Homo sapiens: one gene and its partners. The protein of the gene in region 2 purifies or fractionates together with the protein of the main gene of each other region. This does not show direct contact. Each region holds a gene or a part of one and is shown on either strand. Other genes may lie near its edges. The genes, in order: YTHDF3, SERPINB6, HK1, XYLB and USP46.

Region 1 (3,521 bases), on a different chromosome or scaffold from region 2:
CCCAAGATTACATAAACACAAGCCATATATACACTTCCCCTTACCAAAAACTTTAAGTAAATATCCCAATCTCAACACTGTAGTGAGTAAATTGTTACATAAGAATGTTGGAAAGAGTTCCCTAATGCTATATTTGAATGTAAAATAACTATTTCAAGTAGCGTTGTAGGCAATAAAAAAGATTTCTGAATGTTCTCTACCTTTGTTTAAATCTCTAAATTATTTAGTATAATAAAGAATGAAATAACTATTTTCGATCTAATTTGTTATAGTAAATGTCTTAAATGTCTCCAGTAAAGTTTAGGCTAAAATTAACTTGAAACAATATCACAATGAATAGACTTATAATTATGAAATATCTAAATAAAGAGGGCTTTAATTCTAAGCCCCCCAGAATGAAGACTTTCACATGAAACTACAAACAAAATTAAGACACAAAAGATAGCCATAATTATCCTTGCAATACATGAGAAACAAGTCAGAGAATAATTTTGTTCAAAGGTCATCTCCATAAACACTCTAAAGTTGTTATTCTCTGGATGCTGTTTCAGAGTGCTTTTGAGCAGACTCAGAAGTAAGGTCCCGAATTTGAATCTCAAGTCCAGCACTGAGGAGATGATCTCCAGTTAGGGATTTAAACTCTCTAACCTTTGACTGTTCGCTGTTTCAGAAGGTTATGTATGAATAGTACCTACCTCATCTCATCTGATTATTAAATGACAGTGTTCAATAATCTTAAATGTAATCACATTAAATATTACAAGATCCAAATAGGACTAATATGACTTTAGAACCATTTAAACAGAAGTGTTACTAAGCTAATACTTGATGAGGTGGCACTATGTAAATATACTATTCTATACTAGTGAAGATAAAGTTGAAAGTTTCCGATGGATGTCTACAAATTAGAAACAAAAAGAACTCAGTATCTAAAGATTTACTGCTCAAAGGTACAACATCACCAAATTTTATGAAGTTAGGAGGGTGACGGGTTTAAATTGCGTATTCCTCTGTAATATAACATTTTTATTATCCTTAAATTTTCCCATGAGTGTAGAGCACCTAAAATGTAATATTATGAGTTAACAGTGGCTTGGGAGCAAAGATATACAAAATCCCTTAAATCTTTGCCATCCAATGAGTGGCAAAGATCAAAGATATGATGTTACTGTGTAAAGCATTCAAAGTAGACTTCTTACTACACCACACTGCCCCTCAGAGGCCACAAGAAGCAACCTGAAGGTCAACTTGATCCTGGCTCCACTAACATAATTTAACTATGTCTGATAAGGACTGCATCAGAACTAGGATTGAGCTAAATATGCTCCATGGAATTTAAATATGTAATAGCCACTAGAAACCAAAATAAAGAGGGTGCCTTAGGTTACTTCTAGTGCCATTATAAGGCTGGGTTATTCATTTCAGTCCAAGAGATTCTGACATACCTGTTCTCCTCTGACACTGGCTTTACTGCTCCTAAATCAAAGGTAAGTATGCATGGTCTATTACTTCTTGAAAAAAAATTCTTCACTATTACACTCATACATGTTAGTCAGTATTTGAAACAGCTAACAACTTAAAAATTATGACTAACTATCTCTCATATCCACTAGGTTCTCGAAAATCTAGTTCATACAAATACAAAAAGTGCCAGGCCAGGAGCTCAAGACCAGCCTGGGCAACACAGCAAGATCCCACCTTTACGAAAAATGTTTAGAAATTAGCCAGGAGTGGTGGCATGTGCCTATAGTCCTAGTTACTCAGGAGTCTAAGGAGGATCACTTGAGCCAAGGCATTCCAGGTTACACTGAGCTATGATTATGCCACTGCACTCCAGCCTGGGGTACAGAGTGAGACTCTGCCTCTATTTAAAAAAAAAAAAAGGAAAAAGTACTTACTTAAAATTTATCTGTATATATATATAAATATAATCCTGTTATTCTTATTTTTTTTGTTCTATTATTTCTCTTCTAAGAGGCTAGGCCTGAGAACAACCCATATACTATTATAAATACAGTCTACGGTCATTTTTAAATGATGCATAAATGTCTATAAAGTCTTAAAATATAGTACAAAAAGTCAATCTACTTTAAAAAATGTTTAATTAAAAGTACTTCACATATACCGAGAAGCAATTTGCATTAAACTAGCCCTTAAGTTTTGGAAGTGTATCTTAAAGAAAACTATCTTAAAGACTTTCGTTTTTGAATATTTACTTAATGACAAGCTAATGTCTTGGAGTCTGAAAACCATTAAATAGAAATGAAATCCAAGCTAGTTCCATAGTCTGTAAAATTTCTTCAGGGGTAAAAAGAACAGATGACTTACATGATTCTTCGCCTGTTTCCTCTGCTCTATGAAACAGAGTCAAATCAAGATAGAACATGGGCCTTAGGAGCCAGGTGATTCTTTGCTCTGGTCCTGACTACATCAAGTTAGGAAAGTCAACAGATCTGTGCATCATGTTTCCCCACCTACAAAAACAGCGACAATACCATATACCCGCTATCTCCTTACAAGGATGTTGTGAGGATTGATAAAATGAAGCCTAAAATAATGATAGTAAAGTGCTTTGAAATCATTTCTCGGGAGGACGAGGAGAGAATACAACAGAATATTGCCAAAATATAAGGCATTTTCCACTACTTTTCGAAAATTAAAACTTAGCCAAATTTAACCTAATTATTTTAAATTACAGTTGTATAAAACAATGCATACGTCTCTCCGTTGGAAGAGAGCGGAGAGGAGGAAAAAGATAAATCCTGTTCCATGAATTTGCTATTTATAAACTTAGAGGAGAAAGGAGGCAGTAAGGCCTAAGACTGTAAGTATGGCATCTGACACTTCCAACCATAGTACTCCCAAATAAAAGTACTGCACACCTTTATTCCAATAAGCAAAAATTCTACTTAATAAAAAAATAAAATACGAAGTGTTAAATTATGAACCAATAGGCAAATAATTATCCTTAAATTTCTACTATCCTTTGGTACTACTCTTGCCAAGGATAATAAAGAGTTCTGATATTTAACACAGGGACAGACTTAATTAAAAAAGAATTCAAACTTATAAAACAAGTAAACCTTGAATTATTACTTATTCTACAAAAAACATTTTTGCCATATCAAAGACAATTATTTAGAATTCCTTTTGGCTTCTGTAATGAATTAAGTAATTAAGGATATATAGAAAATCAAAGACACTAAAACTAGGTGTTAGGCTAAAGCTGTCAACTAAAGACAATTCAGAAAAGAAACAGGATCTCTGAAATTATAGTAAGTTGACTGAAAAGGATTACGTGTTCAAAACTTTAACTGACACCAACTTCTCAAGGACATACTATTTTTCATAAGCTTGCTAAGTTCAGAATTCAAGATTACTCATATTTAGAATACTGAGGTTGCAGTTCAAGAAAAATAACTTCATGAAAGTAAACAGAATTGTAAAACAATTTTACGAGCTGGGAACAAGCTAAGGCAGAAAAGCTTTTCTCAAATACACACATAGCTACTTATATCAGG
Region 2 (3,475 bases):
CTACTTTTGTAATAACCTCTTAATCCATTTTATTGTCAGTTCCTTCACAAGACTGTCAATTGTAAACAGGAATGATTTTTTTTTCTCTGAATAACTGCAAACTTAAAAAATCTGCTTCTGAAATCAGTTGCCATTATTTGACATTTTGGAAATGCTCAATGTGTTCTGTTCTCTCTGATTTCTCCCTGTTTCCTTGGTGTACCCGTGATGCCTTTCAGTGTTTGGTATACCTCTTCTGGATCAATCCACGTTTTAATTTTGAGGAGGGGGTTAGTGTGTTAATGTTAATATAGTTTTTCCTTTCACAAGTAACATAAAAAATTCGCAGTGTGGATCTCAAGCTGCCTCCCTCTTGGGTAGCACAGTCTACAGTTGCCATGCATTGCTGTGGGACACTGGGTCACGCCCTGGTCTATCTGTGGTTCTTAATTTAAACTTTTTTTTTTTTTTTTTTTGAGACAAGGTCTCCCTCTGTCACCTAGGCTGGAATGCAGTGACACAATCACAATTCACTGCAGCCTCAATTTTCTTTTTTTTTCTTTGAGATGGAGTTTTGCTCTTATTGCCCAGGCTGGAGTGCAATGGTGCAATCTTGGCTCATTGCAACCTCTGCCTCCCAGGTTCAAGTGATTCTCCTATCTCAACCTCCCAAGTAGTTGGGATCACAGGCACGTGCCACCATGCCCTGCTAATTTTTGTATTTTTTAGTAGAGACAGGTTTTCACCATGTTGGCCAGGATGATCTCAATCTCTTGACCTCGTGATCCACCCGCCTTGGCCTCCCAAAGTGCTGGGATTACAGCATCAATTCTTGTGCTCAAGCGGTCCTCCTGCTTCAGTCTCCCAAGTAATTGGGACTACAGGTAGCACCACCATGCCCAGCTAATTTTAATAAATTTTTTTTTTAAGAGACAAGGCCTCACTATGTTGTCCAGGTTGGTCTCAAACTCCTGGCCTCAAGTGATCCTCACACCTCAGCCTCCCAAACTGCTGGAATTATAGGTGTGAGCCACTGTGTCTGGCCTAACTGTTCTTTAAGCTTGTAAAGAACATCTTCTGACTGCCCACCTTTTTGATAATCCTTTAAGTTCTTGTCTTTAAGTCATAGGCACCCATGATTGCTTCTTATCTCATGTGTTAGGAACTCATCCTGCATAATTAACGCATATTTGTTCACTTTGTGTGTTTTATTCAATTGATGATGTTTTTCGTACCAGAAGATTTTGTTGTTTTGCTTTAAGGACACGTATCCCTTTATATTTGGGGGACAGTGGAACTCTCTATCCGTGCACTTGACTGCTGAAGGAGAAGGCCCCAGCCGATTCCTGATGTGTCGGGGATCCGCAGCCGCCCCTATCTAATGCGGTCTTGAATTCTTCCGCTCAGGTAAAATTGCGGAGTTGCTCTCTCCGGGCTCAGTGGATCCATTGACAAGGCTGGTTCTGGTGAATGCTGTCTATTTCAGAGGAAACTGGGATGAACAGTTTGACAAGGAGAACACCGAGGAGAGACTGTTTAAAGTCAGCAAGGCGAGTAAGGGGCCGTGACAGGAGCAGCGCCTGTGTTCACACGAGCGTCTCCGGCTCGGGGCCTCCCGCGTCTGCAGCCGTGGGGCCTTTCTGTCCCTGCCCCTCCTGCTTGACATCCATTGGGTGGCCTCGTGTCCCTGGGCGCCTGGCATCCGCCCTGCCACCTACAGGGCAAGTCTGAAGCTGCAGCCCTCAGGCTCGATCAAGGTCTTAAAGCTCAGACTCCAGATATGGCGTGCCATCTTCTAGCGGACATTTCCTCCTTTTCTCTAGCTTCATTCCCATCAGGACCTACCCACTCCTTTCTTTCTGGCGGCGTCCCGGGAAGCCCCGCTACCGCGCCTCCTGCTGGCCTCCGTGCCACACTGCAGGAGCGGAACAACTCAGCCTGCTGAATTGAGGCTGAGCAGGGAGGACTCTCTGACAAGTGCCAGACACGTAGCTGGTGCTTAGTAAATGCTGAACCGATGAGTGATATTCAGTCCTCTCTTGATAGTAAGGATAAGTACAGATTTTTGTTTTAAAACAACCAAACCAAACATGTAGATAGACACTGAGATTAACCACCTCCAGCGTGGAAGATGTCATTTGCTGATGGCCCTTTATCTTCCTCTCACTGAATCTTCTTTATTGTCTCTTGTTTTGTTTTTCTTTAACTATAGAAATTTTTGAACATAGACAAAGTAAACAGAATAGATTAATTACAGTGTATTCTTGATCATTGACCATAGTTAGATCTTCCAGGCTAACTTGAACTTGAGCCTTCAGTTTTTCAAGAAATTTATTTTCATTGTCTGTTCTCCTCGCAATTCAGAAAGAATTATTTTCTTTGAAGCTTTATTCTGAAATGAACTGTGCTATTTTCCCCTGGCAAAATAATTTCTCTCTTTAAAATTTAATGATTAACAAGATGTACAAGGGCTTTGACTACAGATAACAGAAACCCCGGTTCACCATGGTTTATCTCCTAGGAGCTCATCTCCCCTGCTAGGAGGTCTGGAGGCAGGTGAGACCTGGGCTGGTCTGGCACTGGGGCGATGATCCCAGGGAGGCGGCTCCACCATTCTCAGCACGTCGCCTTCTTCCTCATGGTCACAAGATGGCTGAGCTGGCTTCAGCAGTCCCGGTGGCAGGGAGGGGGAGGAACAAGGGAGGGGAGGGGAGCCTAAACCTTCCCCTTAGTGGTTCTGCGTTTCAGAAAGGGAAAGCTGCTTTCTATATGGTGTAGGCCAGAACTATAGGTCTTGTGGGTTTGGGGAGATGTGGAATCCCGTCATGCTTTCTGAGTTCTGCAGTGAAGAAGGGTGAAGGAAGGGGCTGCAGTATTGAGCGTACCAGCCTGAGGCCAGAGGTGTACCTCCAAGGGCACAGATTTTGAGTTGATACAGATTCTTATTTTAATTTCATTACCTTCTATATAAACTGGAACTTGTCTATATAATTGTGTATTTAGTGAATCATTCAGTCACTAAGGTTAGATCTTTTTATATTGCAAGATTGGAGGCTTTGGACCCTGAAGGGGTGCAGGGAGGAATTACTGAAGGCAGGGGTCAGCAAACTTCAGCCTACAGCAAAGCCAGCCCACCACCTAATTTTTTTTAAAGGTTTACTGAAACACAGCCATGCTTATTTTTTTTTTTTATTTTTTATTTTTTCCAAGACAGAGTTTCTCTCTTGTTGCCCAGGCTGGAGTGCAGTGGTGCCATCTCGGAACACTGCAGCCTCCGCCTCCCGGGTTCAGGTGATTCTCCTGCCGTGGCCTCTTGAGTAGCTGGGATTACAGGTGTGTGCCACTATGCCCGGCTAATTTTTGCATTTTTAGTAGAGACGGGGTTTCACCATGTTGGTCAGGTTGGTCTCGAACTCCTGACCTCAGGTGATCCACCTGCCCGGGCCTCCCACAGTGCTGGGATTACAGGCGTGAGCCACCACGCCTGGCCCATGCT
Region 3 (3,500 bases), on a different chromosome or scaffold from region 2:
CGTAATTGTATTTTTAAAATATTTTTAAAGTATTTGCAAAAATCTTGATAATGAAACTTTTATTAGCCATTTCTTTCTTTTTTCTTTGTAATTTCTTGGCTAATTTTTTGGACAAGAAAGCCTAGGGATTTGCAGCATCACATTAGAATTTTTTTAGATTGTGGTAAAATACACATAACATGAAGTATATCATCTTAACCTTTTTTTTTTTTTTTTTTTGAAGGCAGGGTCTTGCCCTGTTGCCCAGGCTGGAGTGGAGCGGAGTGGTGTGCTCTCAGCTCACTGCAACCTCTGCCTCCCAGGTTCCAGCAATTCTCCTGCCTCAGCCTCCCGAGTAGCTGGAATTACAGGCATCTGCCACCATACCCAGCTAATTTTTGTATTTTTAGTAGAGACGGGGTTTCACCATGTTGGCCAGACTGGTCTTGAACTCCTGACCTCAGGTGATCCACCTGCCTTGGCCTCCCAAAGTACTGGGATTACAGGCATGAGCCACCTCGCACTTGGCCCCATCTGACTTTTGAACACCGTGCTTTTGACCACTGTGCTGTATTATCTTCCTGTCATGGTGGAGGGCAAAATCTTTTTAGACCTGGAATTTTTTGTATGTGATACTCATGTAATAATGAGAGTCTTCTCTTTTTATGTGTGATTATGAACGATTTCATTTTTCCTTTTTACCTCTCTGCATTTGCTAACTTTTCTACAGTGGATGTATATGATTTGTGTAATGAAAAAAGCAGGTGCAGAAAATGGAATTAGGCTGGGCACAGTGGCCCATGCCTGTAATCCCAGCACTTGGGAAGCTGAGGCGGGTGGATAGCTTGAACCTAGAAGTTTGAGACCAGCCTGGGCAACATGGCGAAACCCTGTCTCTACTAAAAATACAAAAAAGTTAGCCGGGCGTGGCCCCAGCTACTCGGGAGGCTAAGGTGGGAGGATCACCTGAACCTGGGAGGTTGAGGCAGCAGTGAGCTGTGATTGTGCCATTGCACTCCAGCCTGGGTGACAGAGCAAGACCCTGTCTCAAAAAAAAGGAAAAGAAAAAAGAGTTAAAGAGTGGAGAAAGAAAGGGTGGCCGGAGGTCCCCAATAAATGCTCAGTCCAGCTGTTGTGGAATGTCCCCCCTGCCCCCATAAGGTATTCCCGGCGTTTCCACAAGACTCTAAGGCGCTTGGTGCCAGACTCCGATGTGCGCTTCCTCCTCTCGGAGAGTGGCAGCGGCAAGGGGGCTGCCATGGTGACGGCGGTGGCCTACCGCTTGGCCGAGCAGCACCGGCAGATAGAGGAGACCCTGGCTCATTTCCACCTCACCAAGGACATGCTGCTGGAGGTGAAGAAGAGGATGCGGGCCGAGATGGAGCTGGGGCTGAGGAAGCAGACGCACAACAATGCCGTGGTTAAGATGCTGCCCTCCTTCGTCCGGAGAACTCCCGACGGGACCGGTGAGGGCCTGCTGGGGGCTGACATGCCTGTCCTGCTCCTGCCAGGAACTGAGCCGCAGTGGGGGAGGTTGGATTCGCCAGTGGATGCCTTCACACTGGTGATGCACGATTTTGCCAGAGCTAGAAACTCCCTCACATCTCTGTTTTCCATTTTTATTAACTGATTTGTCATGTGTGTGACTCAGGGCAGTTTAATTTTCCTGGTCAGACCTCCCAGGCAAGTGCTATCTCTAAAACCACAGCCCTGCTCAGAACAGTGCTCTTAGCTGGGCAAGGTGACACACGCCTGTCATCCAGCTACTTAAGAGGCTGAGGTGGGAGGACTGCTTGAGCCCAGGAGTTCAAGACCAGTCTGGGCAACATAGCAAGACCCTGTCTCAAAAAAAATTAAATGAATAAAAAAGAAGTGTTCTTAAAAGCTGGGCAAATCCCACAGCACTGATTAGGTTTTCCCAAAGCCAAGGAAAGCCAGCAGAAGGATAAACACTCAGTGTACCCTTCTTAAATCTTGATAGAGTATGCATGAGGCATTCAGGGCCTGGGGAGTTTCGCATTCAGGCAAATTGTAGAACAAAATCCAACCCTTTATGCTAACCTTGGTAGTTTTCACTGGAGCTGATCATTATGGGGAATCTGAAGAGCTTTTCAGGTGGGTCCTTGGAGTAACGAATGTTTGTGACAGGAATGTGTCCTATGTGTAAGTTACCTAATACCACATTATAAGCCACCCTCACACTTAGTGGCTTAAAACAACCACGCTTTATTATTGTTCATGCATCTGTGGGTCAGTTGGACAGTTCTGCTCATCAGGGCCAGGATTGGCTGACCTCTGCCGGCCTCATTCCTGCATCTGCAGTCAGCTGTTGAGTCAGCTGGGAGGCAGATCTCAGACGCCCTTCCCCACATGTCCAGCAGTTGGCTGTCAGCTGGGGTGCAGGGGCCCCTGGCCCTGTGTCTCATCCTTCAGTGGGCCACCTGGCTGTTCAAGTGGTGGCAGCAAGGGCTGCGAGGGAGAGGGGAAGACTTCAAAGCCTCCTGGAAGCCCAGGCTGGGGATAGGTTCAGCTTTGCCTCTGCCACACTCTGTTGGCCTGAACAATCCTAGGGCTGGGCTAGATCCCAGGGGAGGAGAAATTGACTCCATGTTTCAGTGGGAGGAACTGCAGTCATGTTGCAAAGAAGGATTTTGCACATGCAGGGAAGGGAATGATGCAGCTGTTTTTGCAAATACCCCACACCTTGACATAAATTATTATTTTTTGTAGGAGATTTTCATTGTTGCAGCCCTGGTGAAGTCTGTGTATTGTGACAGGTGGTTTACTCACATGCTCTCCTCCCAGTGTGGCTCCAAGTCTGTGGTGGTCAGAGATGTGGTGCCCACTCTTCCTCTGAGTCTGTGCTGTGTCCTAAAGGGAGGAGTTGCAGCTTCTCCTCTATGTTTGCTATGGGGTTCTCCCCTTGAAAGTCTGGAGTCTTGGGGTTACTGGCTGCCAAGAGGCACTTAGCTGTTTTTGACATTCTTTACGCTTTTGACTGCAACAGAGAATGGTGACTTCTTGGCCCTGGATCTTGGAGGAACCAATTTCCGTGTGCTGCTGGTGAAAATCCGTAGTGGGAAAAAGAGAACGGTGGAAATGCACAACAAGATCTACGCCATTCCTATTGAAATCATGCAGGGCACTGGGGAAGAGGTGAGATTACAAAACCATAGTGCATGTGCACTGCACACACGGCCAGTGGCACCGGCAGTCACGTGATGACCAAAATCCGCCACGGGGTGCCCACATGGATTTGTGTCCTTGTGGCCCAGAAGCACCAGATGCTTTTTGCCATGCCTGGCTTGTGACACTCTGGTGGCTGAGAAGATTCTGGAAAAGGAGGCTCACTCTGCATGTGTGTGGGGTGTGTTTTCCTACGTGTGTGTGTGTATACACACTTTGGTCCATGTGCACTGATAAAATTAAAACCACAGAGAGCACGGGCGATCCTTTCTTTTCCCCTGCAGCTGTTTGATCACATTGTCTCCTGCATCTCTGACTTCTTGGACTACATGGGG
Region 4 (4,189 bases), on a different chromosome or scaffold from region 2:
GAGAATCACTTGAACCCAGAAGGCAGAGGTTTCAATGAGCTGAAATCACGCCATTGCACTCCAGCCTGGGCAACAAGAGTGAAACTCCGTTTCAAAAAAAAAAAAAAATTAGCTGGGTGCGGTGGTGTGCGCCTGTAATCCCAGCTACATGGGAGGCTGAGGCAGAAGAATCAGTTGAACCAGGGAGGTGGAGGTTGCAGTGACCGGAGATCACGCCACTGCACTCCAGCCTGGGTGACAGGAGTGAAACTCTGTCAAAAAAAAAAAAAAAAGTCATCAAGCAGTTAAGATTAGATTAAAATGCAGTAATCTAATCTTAATTAGATTAGATACTTAGATACCTTTATTTAAAATTTTTTAAAAGTGGAGATAATAGTACCTACTTCCCAGCATCATTGTGACGATTAAATGTGCTCAGCAGGTTGCATAATTGTTTCTGATCTAGCTAGTATCCAGTATTTGTCTATTGTCACAGGTGGTGACTGCTGGAGGGGCTGAGTCCCCAATAAGCTGTGAATGTCTTGGAGGACAAGTATGTTGGCCCCTTCTTGTTCTAGCAGTGAAGAGGATCCCATGTAGACTCCAAGCAGCTCAAGTTCAGCAAGGGAGACAGACCATTGCAAGTGCATGAAAAGGGCACTGGTGGGCTGGGAAGTTCGTAGGAGGAGCCTCTCACATGCTGGGTTTGGGGAGGAATTCTGGAAAGCAGTTAGTCTTAGGGACGGGAAGGATGTAGCTGGTGGGACAGGCGCCCTCAGCTCCATGAATAAAAGGAGTGGGTCTGACTCTGGTTCTCATTCCCCTTTACCATGCCTGGCACACATTAGACCATCAATACCAATTGACTCCAGGAAGGAGTGTCTCCCCGTGGGGGCATCAGGAGCCGCTGAGTTTAAATACACAGGTGGGATGTGACACACTGGGAACCATTCAGATTTGCTGGATCTGGATAGGGCTTGTCAGGACTCAGTGCTTCCAACCCCAGGGCCCATTTCCCTGTGGCCCCTGAGTCACCACCATGGGTGGACAGCTGCTCCAGTGCCAAGATACAGCCACAGAGGACGGCAGGCCCAGGGCCTCCAGAAGGACAGGCAGGCTCCCTCTGAAAGACAAGCCGGCTTATAGCTGAAACCTCTGGCCCAGGCGTCCTCTAAGGGAAGCCAGGCGGTGTCAGGGCACGGCCCATGAAGACATAAGATGAAGATGGGGAGAACCAGAGGGGGTGCGCTTCGAAGGAAAGCGGGCTGCGTGGGGGCACCGTCGATTGCACAGGACGCGGTCCCGGCTCGCGTAGCCCCGCAGGCGGCGCCAGAGCGCAAGCCCGCCTCGTGACTCCGGTCCACAGTCCGGCCGGGCGGAGCTAGGGGCGGGCCCCTGCGTCTCTGGGCGCTGGAGCGCGGCGACTATCACGCCGCGTGGCGGACGGACGGACTGACGGACGCGCAGCCTTACCCGAAAGGCCATGGCGGAGCACGCCCCTCGCCGCTGCTGCCTGGGCTGGGACTTCAGCACGCAGCAGGTACAGTCGCCTGGCCGCAGGGCCACGGGGCCGCCTCCTCCGCTTCGGTGGGGGTAGGGGGCGGGCTGTCACCCGGACGCGGGAAAACATGGGCCCGGCCGCGGGCGCGCCTACCTCTCGGGCTTCCCGGGGCCCCCGCGCCCCTGCCCTGCGCGCGGCCGTGGGGCGCCGGTGCCCTCGCCCGGAGATGCCCTGCCAATGCCACCCGCTCGCAAGATGCGGCCTCGACCCCGCCTGGACCCAGCTACCCCAGGAAACTGCAGGCGCTCCTCGGCAGGACCCCCGGTGCCCAGAGGGGCCGGAGGACTCGGCGGGTTCCTGCGCTGTTCTGGGCACCCAGTGACGGGGATCCGAAGGAAGTCAGCTACTGTAAGGCAGGGGAACAGACAGGCGGGTAGCCCTGCGCACATGCACAACCAGTGACCTGGAAGCAGATTATAGCCCAAAACCTTTTTTTAAAAATTGAAATGGCCCAGGCCTGGTGGCTCTTGCCGGTAATCCCAGCACTTTGGGAGGCCGAGGCGAGTGGATCGCTTGAGCCCAGGAGTTCGAGACCAGCCTGGGCAATATGGAGAAACCCCGGTCTCTACCAGAAAATACAAAAATTAGCCGGGCATGGTGGAGCACACCTGTAGTCCCAGTTTTTCTGGAGGCTGAAGCGGATCGCTTGAGCCCAGGAGGTGGAGATTGCAGTGAGCTAAGATGGCGTCACCGGTCTCCAGCCTGGGCGACAGAACGGGACCCTGTCTCAAAAAAAAAAAAAGAAAAAAGTGAAATGCATAGTGTACAAGTGGACTTTACCCTGTGACCGCCCTTCGTTGACACCAGCTTGCCTGGTCTGTGCACCCAGGACTGCTGGCCAGAGGAGCAGTGTGCTGCTGCCAACGCCCTGCAGACAGGCAAGCAAATCAAAATTTGCCTTCAAAGAGGGCATGGGGTGACCGGGGGCACCTTTTCCTTTAAAGTACTTGGGAAATATACACAGTTGCAGTCAAACCCCTCTTCTCGAATGGGTCAAGGGAGGCAGGCCTCTGGCCAGTCCTTGGGGGAACGTCCTGTGGGACTCTGGATGACTCGAGTTGCCTTGCTGGACCTCAGTTTTCCCATCTGTCCAGGAAAGGAGTTATACTCCCAAGCTTGGAGATTGCTTCAGTGGGACATTAATGTCTCTGGACCACAATCATGGCCTGTGAGAATAGCCCATGGCCTTGCCTGGTCTCAGGCCTCTGCAGACATGGATCCCCAGAGATGCCTCCAAACCTTGCTTCCCATTCCTTCCTCTCTGGCACTTTCTCCCGCCTCCTTGTCAGGTGCACGAACCAACTCATCTGTGAACATCTTCCTCTAGAGGGTCTTGGCTTTGGCTATTTGGGGAACAAAGATTCCTTGAGACATGTGGGTGTTCCTACTTAGCCTCAGTTTCTTCATTTTACTAAATCTTTGAGTGTTACCCCAGATGAGTCCTCTGTTACCACGATTACGGTGAGGCAGCCCTGCCTTCAAGGAGGTCTCTAGGTTGAACTGCTCCTAGGGTGTGGGGCCTCATCTGGTGACGTTAGTACCCCCTGGACCAGTGTAGAAGCTGAGGAAAATTCTACACTTCCTTTTTTAAAATGCCTTTCAGGTAAAGGTTGTTGCTGTTGATGCAGAGTTGAATGTCTTCTATGAGGAAAGTGTGCATTTTGACAGAGATCTTCCAGAATTTGGGTATGTACTTGATGTGCATGTGTGTGTGATGGGGGTGTTGGTTTTGGGGTCCTCCCGCAAACTTTTGTATTCGCAGACCGCACTGTTGAGGCTTTGCCAAATACAGGAGTGGTGGTCTCGGCAGACCTTTCAAGCATCTTTTTTTCCTATACCTAGAGTGCCATCTCCCCCATTTCTTCCTAATTCCATTCATCCATTCATGAAGTAAGCATCAGTTGAGACCTACTTTGTGCCAGGTGCTAGGACCTGATGGCGAAACAAAAAGAGAAAGCTCTCCCAGAGCTTCCCACTGAGTAGTGGAGACTGGTATCAAACAAAGAATCTCACAAAAGAGTGTTTCATTATAAACTCTGAGAAGGCCTCTGAAGGAAAGGAACTCACTTCTCCAAGTGCTTATTATAAAGGAATGTGACTCAGACTTGGGAGGGGAAGTCCCAGAGCGTCTCTAGGGAAGTGGTGCTTAAGCTAGAGATCAGAGTGAGTGAAGTTAGCCAAGCGATGGAAGGGAAGTTGGCCAGGTGATGGAAGAGCATTCCAGGCAGAAGGAACAACATGTGCGAGGGCCCTGTGGCAAGAAAGAGCATGGTTCATTCCTTCATGCAATTGAAGAAAGCCAATGATGCTGGGGAGCAGAGAGAGGCGGAGGCTGGTCAGAGCTCCATAGGCCATGGTATAGAGTTTGTCTTTATTCTAAAAGCTATGGTCAGCCACTAAGGGCCATAAGGGGTAGGGGTATGGGTGAGGTATGAATGACAGGTTGTATTTTTGTTTTGAAAATATCTCTCTGGGGGCATTGGGAGAACAGATTCGGAGCATTGCTGGAATGGACGTGGGGAACTATTAAAGAGGTTTTTGCTGGTCATTCAGGTATGAAATGATGGATAGGAGAGAGCTGAGTAGTAAAATGGACAGGTCCTGTTACAAAATTGAATGTGAGATGTAAGGGTGGGATTTCTGGCTGTC
Region 5 (3,521 bases), on a different chromosome or scaffold from region 2:
GTGGGCCAGGAGGTCCTGGCATGGAAGGGAAGGCAGGCCCAGCTCCCTAACCTCAAAGCTTTCCAGTGCTACCTGGAAGCCACCCAATCCGCAAGCATAGGCCAGCCCTGCTCCACATAGGAGAACAATGCTACTTCTGTGGGGAGGAGTTTGAAGAATCCTAGTTAGTGGCATGCATGACTTGGCACCAACTGAGCTCTGCTACCAGGGCTCTTCTGACCTTGTGCTCACATTACAGAAACTGACCTTAGAGAACCCAACCTCCCGCTGAACGTCCAGTTCCCTTACCTGTGTCTCTGCCAGTCCTCCCAAGGATTTGAATTGGGCACCCACAGAGACCCACACTGAAAGTCCTGTGTACCCTGTGCAAGGGGCCCTCCTGTCCACACCACCCCTGCCACCCACTTTAGCCACAATGCCCACCAGGTCCCAGGCTCTGCCTGCCCTAAGATCTTCCCCAACCCTGCACCAATGTGAGGCCTCATCCAGTGCTCAAGGCTGGGTTCCAGATCACTGGAACCCTGTGTTCTTCAAAAGAATAACAGGTGTTCTTTAGGGAGAACACCACAAAACTGGCATATAACTAGCCAATAAATATCATTTTACTGAGAATACAAGAAAATATCCAGTGACTTAAAGTTAATACACACAGGATAAAATATGGGGTGCTTCAGATGTGAAGTTATACAGTTTCTGATGCCATCTACCCTAGTACACAATTAAAAATATATCAACCTATTCCTCTGCGTGGCAATGGTAGTCTCCTGGTAATGGTGTATTCACCATAATCCGACCTTAACAGATGGAGGAGAAAGACTCTTGCTCTATGACATGCCCCAATCTAAAACCTATGAGGGCAGGGGGAAAGCTGTGCCTACTCCCAAGACAGAACATAAACCTGTCCCAACTGAGCAAAGAATAACAAACAGGTGAATTTTCAAGATACTTTTCTTCCCTTATACCAAATTATGGAATAAAAAATAGCTGCTCAAAGGAATTTTGGCAAAATGCTTTGCCTCTCCATATCTAGAGGCCTTCTCTCTCTTATCTTTTTTCTGATTATATACTTATTACAGAATGTTGGGGAAAGACCAAAAATAACAAAGAATATTTTTTAAGAATATATTTTTAATCACTCAAAGTGCCAAAAAATTATTAAATTTGATCCATTGCTTCTAGTCTTTATTTACACATCTTAAAATACTTTTGAGATCATACTGTAAATGCAACTTGGCTTTTTAAAAATTAAAATCATAGCATAGACATTTATTTCTCCATGTTATTTCAAATTCTTCATAACCATCGTTTTCATGCAATGGAGATTTATTAAGTAATTTCTCTCATGATAGAACATTTAGATTATCATTACTGGAATGCTCTTTATTTTATGTGCCTGCAGGCATGTTTATATATTTTTTGTGATGATCAGTAAGAGTTTGGCAGAGATCCCAAAACTATTGAGTGCCACGGCCCAGGAAAGGTGCAGCTGGGTATACTTCAGCGAAGAGGCAACCCTTACACTTACCCTGTATACCTGCTTCCAGTCTTGCCCTTACCTGCCACAGTGAACGACCACCGCAACCAAGTCATACATGCGGTCCAGGTTCACTGCATCACTGGAGGTGTTGAAGAGCCGGAGTTCCAGAGGGAAGACCACACGGTAAGACAGCTTGGTGTATCTGTGCAGCTGCTCCATGTACTTGAACCGCTTTAGGTGCAGGGCCAAGATCATGGGCAGCTTTTTTACCCTCATCCTAAGAAACCAAGAAATAGAAAATCAGTTGTACCCAACACCTATTAGGGGAAGAGAATACACTGTCATCTGCACAAACAGAATAGTAGGAGGTTCTATCCAACTTCAAACCAGCAAACAACCAAACAGTTTGCAAGGATAAAAGTATGCTGGCATATATAGAGCTGACTTATCCTACATCCCTGGCTCCCAGCAGGAGAAATGTACAATGGTGTGTGTCTGTTTGTTGGAAGGAGACGTTCCAGAATTTTTGTACAAATAAAAATAGGCTGTGCAATTGTTCTCCATCACTGCCCTGTGCCTTCCAGAGAGAAATGATATTTGGACAATCTACCCCCTGAGATGATGGAGAGGAAGGTTGAGAGCTTTTGAGAACAGGAAGCTGGGAAGAGGACAAGGTAGATGATGCCGACTGCTGGACTTACAGGTTCTGAGGACTGGCAGGAGGATGGATGCTTCTGACACACACTCTTGGGCATCGGGACACCAAGCGTGCCAGGCTCACTCTCATTCCGACCCTTGTGATCTTGGGCAAGTCACTTCCCTTCTCTAGCTCTCAGTTTCCTTATTTATAAAATGCAGGGGTTGGCTTAGGGCTACATTTCACAAACTGGGCTCAGGAGAGCACTGGAGATGTTAACAGATGTGGTGTTTCTGTGGCTAAGTAAGTTTGGATGATGCTACTTTCTGCTTTGAAGATCCTATGTGTACATTACCAGACTGAAGACTTTGAGAAATCCTGCAGTAAAGGAATTGTTCTGTTGTTTGATGTTGCACTTCCCAAACTTATATAAACATAGAAAAGTTTTTTTACTAGGTGACCATTAACATTTCTCAGTAAAAAGTCGCAAAGGCAACAGTTTATGCAGAGTACACTGCTAGAATAGAGGGTCTTCCAGTTACCTTCCAGCCCCCATTCCATGAATGTACTGAATTAAGTGTAAATGCCATTTAGTTTGTGTACATTTTTAATGCATAGTATGTGAAAAAGACAAATTTTAGAAGAATAGTTTTAAGGAATCTATTAAGGAAAAGCCCTGTTCATATAAATAAGCAAGTAAAACAACAGTAGAGAAATAAGAAGTATGGGGAACCCCATGTTTTATGGGAACACATGACATTGCAATATATAAACCCCCCAGGGCTGAACAAAAAATGTCTTAATGCCACAAAGGAAGACCCCAGGCCAGCCTTAGGCAGATTGAGGTTATAAGGATGGGGGACAGACATGAGTGACCTTCTTTACTAACAAAAGGTATCTACCTACCTCCTTGAGGACTGCCCGCTAAGGTGACTAACCATCTGTAAGTTTTGCAGCAAAGAAAAGTGTACATGTTTGGAGTGAACGCCTGGGAAGGCTGGGCAGAGAAATGATCTCAACCTCAGGTCTAGACCCCTGAGGGTTTTAGACAGCAGTATTGAGCATCTGCCAGCTGCCTTGAATACTCCAGAACCACTGACAAGATAGATTTAACTCACAGGAAGCCTTCGCAGGATGACTGAAATGGCAACTTTCCTGGCTTGTAGGAGCAGATTAATGGGGGTTATTCCAGATTTTCCAAGAACTGTAACTGTCTAGTGTGCAGGAAAGGTGGTGCAATAACTTTCTAACTTTCTTATCACCTGTTCTTTTTCTTTTTTCTTTTTTTGATACAGAGTCTCACTCTGTCACCCAGGCTGGAGTGCAGTAGTACGATCTCAGCTCACTGTAACCTCTGCCTCCTGGGCTTAAGTGATTCTCCTGCCTCAGCCTCCCGAGTAGGTGGGA

Evidence for each region.
Region 1: the proteins of SERPINB6 (region 2) and YTHDF3 fractionate together in Homo sapiens (co-fractionation; one large-scale study listed by BioGRID). This does not show direct contact.
Region 3: the proteins of SERPINB6 (region 2) and HK1 purify together in Homo sapiens (co-immunoprecipitation; one large-scale study listed by IntAct). This does not show direct contact.
Region 4: the proteins of SERPINB6 (region 2) and XYLB fractionate together in Homo sapiens (co-fractionation; one large-scale study listed by BioGRID). This does not show direct contact.
Region 5: the proteins of SERPINB6 (region 2) and USP46 purify together in Homo sapiens (co-immunoprecipitation; one large-scale study listed by IntAct). This does not show direct contact.

Annotation. Positions count from the first base shown.
Region 1 is NC_000008.11:63,171,606-63,175,126, reverse strand, and holds part of YTHDF3 (YTH domain-containing family protein 3), read right to left. Parts: intron 2,475-3,521; exon of another isoform or gene 2,387-2,474; coding exon of another isoform or gene 2,329-2,386; intron 1,477-2,328; exon of another isoform or gene 1,446-1,476; intron 1-1,445. UniProt on the Homo sapiens protein: Specifically recognizes and binds N6-methyladenosine (m6A)-containing RNAs, and regulates their stability. M6A is a modification present at internal sites of mRNAs and some non-coding RNAs and plays a role in mRNA stability and processing.
Region 2 is NC_000006.12:2,951,098-2,954,572, reverse strand, and holds part of SERPINB6 (serpin B6), read left to right. Parts: intron 1-1,386; coding exon 1,387-1,529; exon of another isoform or gene 1,530-1,533; intron 1,534-3,475.
Region 3 is NC_000010.11:69,381,347-69,384,846, forward strand, and holds part of HK1 (hexokinase-1), read left to right. Parts: intron 1-1,140; coding exon 1,141-1,445; intron 1,446-2,986; coding exon 2,987-3,135; intron 3,136-3,449; coding exon 3,450-3,500. UniProt on the Homo sapiens protein: Catalyzes the phosphorylation of various hexoses, such as D-glucose, D-glucosamine, D-fructose, D-mannose and 2-deoxy-D-glucose, to hexose 6-phosphate (D-glucose 6-phosphate, D-glucosamine 6-phosphate, D-fructose 6-phosphate, D-mannose 6-phosphate and 2-deoxy-D-glucose 6-phosphate, respectively).
Region 4 is NC_000003.12:38,345,407-38,349,595, forward strand, and holds the start of XYLB (xylulose kinase), read left to right. Parts: upstream 1-1,378; 5' UTR 1,379-1,462; coding exon 1,463-1,519; intron 1,520-1,526; exon of another isoform or gene 1,527-2,418; intron 2,419-3,140; exon of another isoform or gene 3,141-3,143; coding exon 3,144-3,226; intron 3,227-4,189. UniProt on the Homo sapiens protein: Phosphorylates D-xylulose to produce D-xylulose 5-phosphate, a molecule that may play an important role in the regulation of glucose metabolism and lipogenesis.
Region 5 is NC_000004.12:52,600,301-52,603,821, forward strand, and holds part of USP46 (ubiquitin carboxyl-terminal hydrolase 46), read right to left. Parts: intron 1,755-3,521; coding exon 1,557-1,754; intron 1-1,556. UniProt on the Homo sapiens protein: Deubiquitinating enzyme that plays a role in behavior, possibly by regulating GABA action. May act by mediating the deubiquitination of GAD1/GAD67.